Linked DNA regions of Homo sapiens: region 1 is linked to region 2. Evidence: fine-mapped expression QTL. A gene starts in region 2. The other region holds a variant in brackets. All regions are shown on one strand. Distances are between the middles of the regions. Region 1 overlaps LINC00596 (long intergenic non-protein coding RNA 596). Region 2 holds the start of TGM1 (transglutaminase 1).

Region 1 (5,374 bases), 430 kb before region 2:
GGAGACATCTCAGTAACAATATTTAGGATGGTCTTACTGTTGGCAGCTTGAAGGTTTCTTCACTCAACACTCCATTTTTACCATAGTAAAAATAAGGATAGGAAAAGAATATGACTCTCTTCCTTTTTGAGTAGGCCAACTAAAAGGGGAGCTAGCAAAGTGAATTTTACATAAGCAAGAACAGGTGCTTTCTCAGGCAAATCATATTTAGGAAAGACCACACATGGAAGTTGAAGATCTGAAAATTTATTTCTTTTTTAAGAAATAATTTTATTGACATACATTTTACATATCATAAAATTTAAGTCTGCAATTCAATGATTTTTGTAACTTTACCAAGTTGTGCAACCATCACATTCGGTGAGTTGTAGAACACTTTCATGGCTCCAGTAAAACCCCTCATGCCCTTTACAGTTGATCCCTCTTCCTAGCCCCAGGCCCAGACAACCTTTATCTATTTTGTCTCTATAAATTTTATAAATTTGCCTTTCTGAATCTTTCATACTAATGAAGAAATTGATTAAAAATATATATATATGGCTACTTACATCTTGGAAAGTCTTTGCATATATACTGTTCTATAACATTCTCTTGCCCAAGGGATGGGACACCTGTCTCAGGCCTATGGTATTTTTGGAAGAATATCTATTCATATCTCTGTATCTCTATAGATCTATTTATATAAAATATTCAACATACAATCTTCTTACCTTTATGGTGAGTCCCAGTTGCTTTGTCTAGGGCACAGAAGGAATCCCAGCAACAGGAGTAGCTCAAGATTGGGCAGGTCCTGGGGTGTCTGGGCAGCTGCTGTTCTCTCTCCTCTCTAAGTCAGGGCATCCTTTCCTTTCTCCTCCCCCTAGGACACACCAGGAGGTCTCCCTGCCCTCTTTCCAGACTTCACTTTGTTGAGTCATCAAAGCCCCAAACCAGGACCGAGACTCCTTCTGAAAGACACCAAATCACATTCTGTCCATCACGCAGGGCGTCTTTCACAGCTTTGCTTACTGCCACAGTGCACGTGGACCTCTATGAGTCACTATGGACTGTGCACATCAGCTCCCAGGAACTCTGGTCCTTTCCTTGCATTTTCTATGTTAACATATGGGCCCACTATCCATTCAGTTGTCTAAGCCAGAAACCGCAGTCAGCCAAGATCCTTCTCACTTCTTCCATACCCAATTGTCACCAAGGCCTGCTAATATGATATCTGCTAGCTTTTAGTTGATCTTCTCCTGATTCCTCAGTCACTGCATTTTGTTGGAGTGGTCATCTGTCTTGCCTGAAGTGTAGCTGTAGCTTCTGTTTTGCTCTTACTTCGAAACCAAGCTGGAGGAACCTTTCCAAGGTGAAAAGCTGATCAAGTTCATCTCATTGTGGAGATTCAACCATGGCTTTCCATTGGCTTTGATGATAAAATGTACATTTCTTGCCTTCCCACACTGGGATTTTGTTGATTTGTTCCTGATTCTTTTCCCTTTGCCTTCACAAGCTCCTTCTACTATAAACATAACAATGTTCTTGCATTTCATACTTGCATCTTCTCATTCGCTGGATTGTTCTACTCTTCCCTCAGACTCAGCAAAGGCATCCCTTCTTCAGGGAAGCCTTATAAATACATCTACTTGGTTTTACATGGCTGTCTCTCCAAACCAAATTTCAATGTTTCCCCTGCACCTCTTCCCACTGCCACCAGGCTGACAATATCTTAAGGGCAGAGTTCGTATTTTATATTTCTCCAGAGTCATTGCACATGATAGATAGCCATTCATTATTTGGAGTTTCTTAGTCTCTTAAAAAATAATCACATCTCTGTCTTAACATGTGCCTTCTGTAGATGCCTTGAGCCTCCTATGGGGTCACGAGGATTGTGTGTTGGGACCCAGGGAGACACAGTGAAGATTCAGCTGGAGAAAGGGGTTGTGCAACACAGCTTATGTTTGTTCTCTGTTAAAACCCGGCTCTTTCCTCCTAAGGAGAGTTCTAGAGCAGCTGTTTTTATTACTAATGGGTCCGTGTTTTGTAGTATGTTCTAAGTACCAAACTAAGGCACATTTGGTGTTTTTATCTTTATGCAAACCCACTGAGGTGGGTGGTGCTATCCCCCCTTGAAACGTAAGGAAGCAATCAGAGAGAGAGAAGTTAAATAACCTGCCCGGCCTATTATAATTATTATTCCTTAGCACTGAGATTTGTCTTCAAGCCGCATACTCTCAACTTCTAAGCCATATGTGTTATGAAACGGATAAAATATTGTGAACTAAAAGGCAAATAATTTTGCATCCTGGCCCAACATGCCT[A/G]TTGAAGTTAGTAGAGTGTCTAAATGCAGCTATGGGTGGGAAACCAAGTGAACTACGAAACCTCTTGCCCCGTCATGTCTTCAAGTGTGCCTCCCCAGTCTCAGCCTGGGTTGCTCTGAACATATTTTCGTTCCTATCATTTTCCTGGTCTCCATTCCAAACACCTTGGTATAGAATATACCTGTTCTTTCTTTTTTTTTTTTTTTTTTTTTTTTTTTTTGAGACGGAGTCTCGCTCTGTCGCCAGGTAGGAGCACAGTAGCGCGATCTTGGCTCAAAGCAACCTCCGCCTCCTAGGTTCAAGCAATTCTCCTGCCTCAGCCTCCCAAGTAACTGGGACTACAGGCGAGTGCCACCACGCCCAGCTAAGTTTTGTACTTTTAGTAGAGACAGGGTTTCACCATGTTGGCCAGAATTGTCTGGATCTCTTGACCTCGTGATCCGCCTGCCTCGGCCTCCCAAAGTGCTGGGATTACAGGCATGAGCCACTGCGCCTGGCCTTACCTGTTCTTTTTCAAGTACTACATGTCTAAGACTTGTTAGCAAGATACAGTCTTCCATTGCCAGTTTTGGAGTCAGGCTTAGATGTGTGGAAACAATTAATCCCTCTATACCAGGCAGTTTCTTTCCAAAGTATGCCTACCTTTATCTGGTTTTCACAAGCTTTAAGTCCGCATATGCTTTTGAAATGAAAAGTGGTTTGCATCCTTGACAAAGTAATTGTCATTAGAACCTAGTCTTGCAAATTTGTTTGACTTTTTAACTTTTAAATTCAGAGCAAATAGTAATATGACTCAGGTCTTGAAGCTATAACTCAGTGTTCTTGCCCCAGGAAAGAACCAGTTGATTCTATCTTCAGGAAGAGAATTTATATACACATACACATTTATATAGTCTACATAGTCTATACATATATATGCACACACATGCATTATATATGAAAATTTTTTGATAACTGCAAATTGCTGTACGCATAATGGGTATATTACTTTGTTAATTTTGTCATTTTGTATACAGCAGCTGTCATCCCATTTGCTATATTTAAGAGTTTTATTTTTCTTAAAATTCCTTTCCTTTCCATGGCTTTTAAAGAAGCAACTTTTTTGCTTCTGTTCTCTCCCCAGTTTACTGTAAAGAGGAAAGGAAAGCATTTCTCTATGACATGCAACACTTTCAGCACTTCTGTGACCAAATGTGTGGGAGTTTTCCTGATACCAACCAATTCTCCTACTCTCTGGACACCAACTGGGCATCCTATAATTCAACCGTGACACCAACTACCTGGAGTTGGTGCAGATGCCACAGGTTAAGGGCTCAGTCCCACAAGACTGCCCCCACTTCAGATGCCAATTTCAAGTAGCGAATCCCCAGGTTACCCACACTTCTATCAGCCTTGGCTACAAATGGAGGGTTCTCACGACTCCCTCCTCAGTTTTGATGATTTGCTATGATGGCTCACAGAACTCAGGGGAAGATGTTTACCAGTTTATTATTAAGGATATTATAAAGGACACAGATAAACAGCCAGATGAAGAGATATATAGAGAGAGCTCTGGAGGGGTCCTGAATACAGAATTTCTGTCCCCATGGAGTTGGAATGCAACCCCCTCCTAGCACATAGGATGTGTTCACCAACCTGGATGCTCTCTGAATCCTGTCTTTTAGAGATTTTTTGGGGGGGCTTTGTCACATAAGCATGATCAATTATAAACTCAATCTCTAGTTCCTCTCCCCTACCTGTTGATGGGGGATGAGAGAGAGTTCCAAGTCTCTAACCATGCCTTGATCTTCCTGGTGACCAGGCTTCATTAAGGAACCCAGCAAGAGTCACCTCATTAGAACAAAATATGCTCCTAGCACCTTTATCACTTGGGAAATTACAAAGGTTTCACGAGCTCTGTCCAAGTTCTGACCAGGGAAGATGACCAAAATAATTTTTTATAAGGACTGATATTTTCCTATGGATCTATTTACTGTAGCCAATTTATCAGCCTGCTCTTTTTGTGTGGTCCCCCTACCCTCCACCCCACAAAGAATAACCCCTCTACTGCAAGTCAGTAATGTAGGTGAGAAGATCTCAGTTTTTCCTTTTAATAAATTCCTACCTGATTTTCAAAAAATCTTATCCAAATAGACTTCAAAGTTTTATTTATAGTATAAGACATGCTGATGAGGTATGGGACATGGTATATGATACATGCAAGAGTAGTTATTTCTGCTATTTAAAGCTAACAAATTTTTTAAGCCAATCTGTCTTGAATATAATCAGGTAGCTCCAAGACTGGATAACCTTTCTTGAAATTAATCTTTCCTTCTTTTTCATAAATTTAAAAAATTCTTAAGACAAACATAATACATTTCCCTTAAATAACTGTCTTAAACCAAAAGGAATTGAATTTGTGAAAGGTCATCTTGATAGATTTATTTAAATAAGTTATAAATTTATTTTAATTAATGTTATTTACTGTATAAAAAATTTTGCCAGTATTGAATAGCAAAGCAATTAATCACAAGCCAAAGCAATATAAATAAAAATATAGTGTAAGACATCTTATTAAGACTTAGAAAAAAAAGTTTCTCACTGAGTAACATGATCAGACTCAAATAAAGGTCTAGCAGTTATAAATGTATTATATACATGTATTAATTTCTTGATCTCTTTTATAGGTCCATATGTGCATAGAAAATAATATTTTTGAAGTTAAAAATAAATAATAAAATTTATGTCTTTCATCTAAAACTTATGCTTACTTTTCCTCTGTGCAAATACTGAACCCTGAATACTGAATTTGTGATAAGCATACATGAATACTATTTTCACCTGAAATGAGATAATATCCCAGTTCTTGATGGTTGTTCAAACAAGAGAAAGCTCACTCCCCTATGTGAAAAGTGGAAAACTGCAGCCAAATGCATATTTCTTTAGGAGTGGTAGAATACTGTTTCACAGAAATCCAAACTTTTCTTAGGTCAGGTCAGTGATTCTCACGTGATTTACTTCAATTCACAAAGTTCTTCATCTTCTTATCAAAGTCAGGTTCCCAGAATGAGCCAAATACTGTATCCAGAGCTAGA
Region 2 (5,361 bases):
ATTGCGGGGGTCAAAGGGCAACTGGAACTCCCCAGCGTCTGATTGTGTGCGGACTGTGAACTGAAACTTGCCGATGATGGCGTTGGGGGAAGTGTGGACCCGCAGGTTCAGATTCTGCCCACTGGCCTTGACCACCTGGGCTTTCCAGCCTCCACTGCCCCCCTTGCCCACTGGGATGATCACGTGCGTGCCCTTGCCCACCTCGGGGTTGTTTCCTAGAGTAGGAAATCAGCAATTAGCTGGCAAGGCCTCCCTGAGGAGAGGGGATGGAGCCTGGGACTTCTCCCGGCCCCACCCACAATGTGTATGAGCCACTGTGTATGTCCCTACGTTGGGCCATCACCTTATTCTCTGACAGTCTCCCTTAGAGCAGCTCTGTCTCCACCCAATGCTTGCCCACATGTTAGGGCAGTGCCGCAGTCCAACATCCCAAACCTGTTCCCCTGACACTGAACTCTGAGGTGGGGAGGAGAGACGAGGGCTCCTGTCACCTTCTGCCTGCCTGACTATCACAGTGCCTGGGCTGGAGGGGCAGATCCACCTGCCCCGTATGAAAGGGCAGTCCTGATCCTGAAGGCCAACCCTGCCTGCTTCCTGGGGCTGCAGCTTCCAGAGCCCAGGGCATCCCTGGTGGAGGTGGTAGGGGTTCCTGGGAAATTAAAGGATGAGGTGGGCAAGGTTAGGCCCTAATCAAAGGGTAAAAGGAGTCACCTGCCCCAGGCAGCAGCATAATCACCAGCCTGAGAAGTCAAGCTACACCAAGCAACGCGGTAAGGGAGGCACCTGCCTTGGGTCATGGGGACAGAGGGACAGAGACAGAGAGAGACAGAATTGGCAGAGATGGGGGACATGGAAGGCAAGAGGGAGAGAGAGAGATAGAAGAGAGAACCAGCCACATCCTGGGGAATGAGAACAGATGCACAAAGGACAGAGCAGCAATGCCGAAGGAGGCACCGAGGCAGGCCCTGAAGAGGAGTACTCTGAGACCGATGCCCCAGGAGGCTTGAGGAGGATGGGCTTGGGAAAAACTGCAACACCAAGACCCTCTCTGAGACACAACCCCAGGGGCACACCCACACACTTGCACCTGCCTTATCTGGCAGAGGTGAGGAGTGGGGCAGGGAGGAGCCTAAAGACCTCTCTGACCCTAATGCCAGCCTCTCCCCACCAAACATAGGGCCTTCACCCGTCCCAATCCAAGCCCCACTGACCGATGAGTAACTCAAGGGTGATGCGATCAGAGGATTCATAGGTCCGGGACAGGAGGAGGAGCATATGGAAAGGCTGCCCGCGGCGCACTATCAGCTCGTCGTACTCATACTCGTCTGTGTGGTGCTCTCGGCGGTTCTGGTCCGAGCGCGAGCTCAGCAAGTCCACACCGTTCACTACTAGCATGCCCTCTGCAAGGACACAGCTCCGTGTCAGTGAAGCCCCATGAGGAGCCCAGGCCCTTATCATTAGCTTCCTATCCCCCCCAGAAATGCCAGGCTGAGTCTCTGGTCCCATTAAAGCCTTTTAGCTCTCAGCTGAGGAGGACAGACCGGCCTCACCTCGGATGGTGCCATCTCCAGCTGCATTGACACCGCTGCCCCGGGATACAGGCCGGCGGGAGTCTGAGCCCCGGGAGCCAGGTCTTCGAGTGCCAGAGCTGGACCCTCGACCCCTGGAGTCAGAGGGTTCAGGTCCCCAGTCGTCATCTGCCGCATTTCGGCATGAACAGCAGCCACAGCAGCGAGCCCAGAAGGAACGGCCTCCTCCTCTGCGAGAGCGTCCGTCTGGCTCTGGCTCTGGCTCTGGAGATGGCGTGGTAGGGGGCTGCAAGGGGTTGCCACCCCAACGGCCCACATCGGAACGTGGCCCATCCATCATGCCTGTTAGGAAGAGGCAGGGTGGCTCCTTAACCCAGGTAGTCCCAGCCAGTTGACCCAGAAACCCTCCATCCAGACAGCTGATTCAGTCCCACCCGATGACCGAAACAATCCCACCTTGGCCCAGAGATTCTCCAGACACATCCAGAGACCTTCCGCGAAGACCATTCAGACTCACCCAGAGAAGCTTCTCATGCTGCAGAGAAAAGCCTTCCCCTCACCCCCACCAAACAACATCCGAAAAACTGCCCAATGAAGAAACCCACTCAACGATCCATCCCAGGAAATCCACATAGTTCCCTGCATGGACACTTGTCCCAGCCTCAAGACCCAGCTGCACACACATCAGAGTGCTCCAGCATCCCTGGGCCTGGTCCGTCCACCTGCTAGCTCTGCAGTCTAGAGGTGCACAACACTGACAGCTTCTAGAACTCATTTCTTAGCAGAAATCCCCCAACTCAAGGTTCCTCACAAGACAGACAAGTGACCCCGGGGCCTGTGGTCCTTGGCATTCCCAAGTCAGGGAAGACCCCACTTGGGGCTGCCAGGAGGGGTAGGGCATGGCAGGTGCCCGGAGCCTGTGCACAGGGAAAGCAGAGTCTTGGTGTTGGGAACAGCCTAGCTGGGGCTGACAGGTACACAGCTGGCCCACACCCCACCTTGCTGGATCCAGGCACGGCCTCTGATAGTGTGGGCCGCCTGGACTCGGCACCACAGTACCCGTGGGAGCCCCTCACCTGGCAGCAGTGTTGGCAACCGCAGTACTGAGTCCTGGGGCTGAGATGGAACAGGTCAGGATGGATGGGACAGGACCCACAGACTGGATGCCGCAGGGACAGACCTGGTAAGTGACTTATGTGGGAGGGAGGGGCCAAACTGCTGTAGGGGGCGGAGAGAAGAGGCCAGGCCTCTGGGCGGGAAATGGGGAGAAGATGCTAGGGAGGGAGCAGGGGTGAGGTCTGGGGGCTTAGGCTGGGCTTTGGTGGGAGCCACCGCTGTGATGGCCCCTGGCACCAGGCTGATTCCTACCAGACTGGGCATGTGAGGAGCCCCTTCTCCCGGATGAAGAAGCTGCAAGGGCAGTGGGGCAGGCAGGCCCTTCCACCCACAGCCCTGTCTGGCCGACCTTCTGGTCCCAAGCTTAGGCTGCCTACCTCTGCTCTCACAGGCTCCTGCTGCCGAGTTCTGTGCAGCCCAAGCCAGGCTCAGCCCTATGAAATTGGCCCAGGGGCCTGGTCCTGGAACTCATCCTGCCCAGGGAGGTCCTGGGATCCCAGGTTGCAGACTGGTGACATCAGCAGCCAGGCCCTCAGACTGGCTCCACCAGCTAACCCCTGACCTGCTGGCTCTACCAGATATTCTGACTCCCTCCACCCCCAAGTCTGTCCCTTCTTTCTCAGCTGCTCTACAGCCCCAGGCATGAGTGAGCTGCCCTCAAGTTTGGGATTAGGGAGATCAGAGTAGGAGCAATCTCATTTCACGTCCCCCACCCCCGCTGTAGCCTCGGGGGTTAGGGGATGTTTAGGCCTTTCCACTCAGGCTTGGGTGGGAACTGAGTCCCCCTTCCAGGGGTACAGAGTACCTTTCTCTCACTGAGAGGAGTCTCTGCTCAGTTGGACTAGAGGATTCCCTTTTCTCCAACCTGGAATTCTTCCTGGGAATCCAGACCAACCGGCTCAGGCACCTGTGCTGTGTGCATCCTTACTCCACCCCGTCACTGGGGAAACACTGAGGATGGCACCAAGGCGATCCCAAGGTAGAGAGGAGGAGGCTAGGCATCTTCAGGGAGGCTCTCCTTGGGTCTTGTCCTCAGGCCCGTCAGCCAGGGCCTTCTTCCTTCTTTCCTTCCTTCCCACTAGTGTCCCAGCTCTGCCCATGGGCCGCCTAGCAGAAGACAGTAAAAACAGGCCGACAAGAAGACACAAGGAAACAGAATCCAGGAGGGGCTGTTTGGTGATGCATCAGGCAGGGAGGTGCCGTGGGGAGTGGGGACAGAGAGGCCCCAGGAACTGGCAGGGAGCCCTCCACACCCACACTGCCTTTTCTTGTCCAGCTCCAAGCACCAGAACCTGCCCGGGGGTGGGGGCAGGTGCCCCACCTCCAACACCCTCAGTAGACACACCAGTGGATATAAACTTCCAGGCAGGTCAGCCAGAGGGCTTTGTGCAGGGGCTGCGGATTTGTGCATCACTGCAGATACGGGAAGGGGCAGGGCCCTGGCTGTCCGGACGTGTGTGAGCACATGTGGGCCCAGGCAGATCCCAGAGAACCAGTAGGATGCCTTTGTCACACTCTCTCCCTAGCTTTAATCAATCTTTCTCTCCCCACCCAGCCAGGTTTGAGTCAGTGCCCTAACCCCTGAGCCAGTCCCCTCCCCCCACCACCACTCAGGACTCTCTAGGTCAGGACAAGGTGTGTACATGGTATGTGTGGGGGGACACCATGGGAGCAGACACTCAGCTCAGGACCTCAAGGAGCTGAGGCCAGGCCGCTGCCCAACCATTCCTTAGCAATACAGAAGCAAGAACATGAGTCTAGAATCCTAGACCAAGGGTAGAGACAACTTTGGTTTCAGTGCTGAAGCGCTCCGGCCAAGAACCTTGGGCAAGTCTCAACAGCAGTTTCCTCATCAGTACACTGGGCCTAAAAATCTCATCCCTGAGACTCTGTGAGGATCAAATGGTATCAAGTATTCTCAAAGGTACTTCAACCGTAGAATGCTACTCATGGGGACCGATAGTGTTGTTCAGGCAGGACGGAGCAAGGACACCCTGGCCCATTCCTGGGAACGTGGAGCCCTTGAGCCTCCCCAGCTATGGTGAATGGGGGCCAGGGCAGGGGGAACATGTGGAAGGTGCAGGGGTCATGGGAAAAAATTGTATGATGCTTCCAGCTGGAGAAACTCACAGCTGCTCTGTAGCTTACCAGAGCCAGAACCTGAGCCCAAGCCCTATTCCTGCTTGGAATCTAGACCCAGTCCCAGCCCCCACCCCAAACCAGAAGGTAAACAAAAGCTCAGCCTTCACCCTGAATTCTGCCCCAAACACTGAAGCCTTGGCTCTCTCTGAGAGGAAACAATAGGATGGCGCAGAAAGAAGGAGCTGGCAACACCCCATGTCTCTTCCCTTTCTTTTCAAAAAATAAAAGTGATGAAGGTGGTGGTGTAGTGATAGCAGCGACAACAGCTTGGTAGCCTGAGAGGGCCTCTCCATTCTTTATTCAGTCCCAATAAGTTAAAGGGCAAGGGTAGGGGGCAGGGCCTCTTAGGTGAGGACGCTGCTAACTGAAGGCAGCAGTTCAGCCAGTTGCTCCAAGATGCCCACCGCTTGGCACAGCGGGTTACCCTGCAGGTTGAGGAGGACCAGCCTGGGGCAGGAGGCAAGAGGCTGGAGCACTGCAGGCTGCTGGAGGCCTTGTTCAGGAGAGTCAAGGAAAGCTTGGCAGGTTCCTCCCAATTTATTTGCTCCTGTGTACCCTCAAGAGCTGGGGACTG

Evidence for each region. PIP is the estimated chance that this variant, and not a neighbour inherited with it, causes the effect.
Region 1: its variant is the best candidate, but not a certain one, in a credible set for the expression of TGM1 in substantia nigra (GTEx, PIP 0.81).

What each region holds. Positions count from the first base shown.
Region 1 is chr14:23,834,001-23,839,374 of GRCh38, forward strand. It overlaps LINC00596 (long intergenic non-protein coding RNA 596), which reads right to left. Exons shown (of 4, transcript XR_429343.4): 4 at 4,723-5,374. Among named protein-coding and RNA genes, the nearest start is that of LINC00596, 66 kb to the right of the region's middle. The variant A/G (reference allele first, on the strand shown) is at 2,301.
Region 2 is chr14:24,260,484-24,265,844 of GRCh38, forward strand. It overlaps TGM1 (transglutaminase 1), which reads right to left and starts at 2,694. Exons shown (of 15, transcript NM_000359.3): 1 at 2,606-2,694; 2 at 1,551-1,871; 3 at 1,212-1,400; 4 at 1-215. The coding sequence starts at 1,869. RABGGTA (Rab geranylgeranyltransferase subunit alpha) reads right to left here. Exons shown (of 17, transcript NM_182836.3): 17 at 5,055-5,280. The coding sequence ends at 5,132. RefSeq lists promoters at 1,869-4,869, 1,869-3,622, 1,877-2,072, 2,633-4,299, 2,682-5,199 and an enhancer at 3,169-3,177.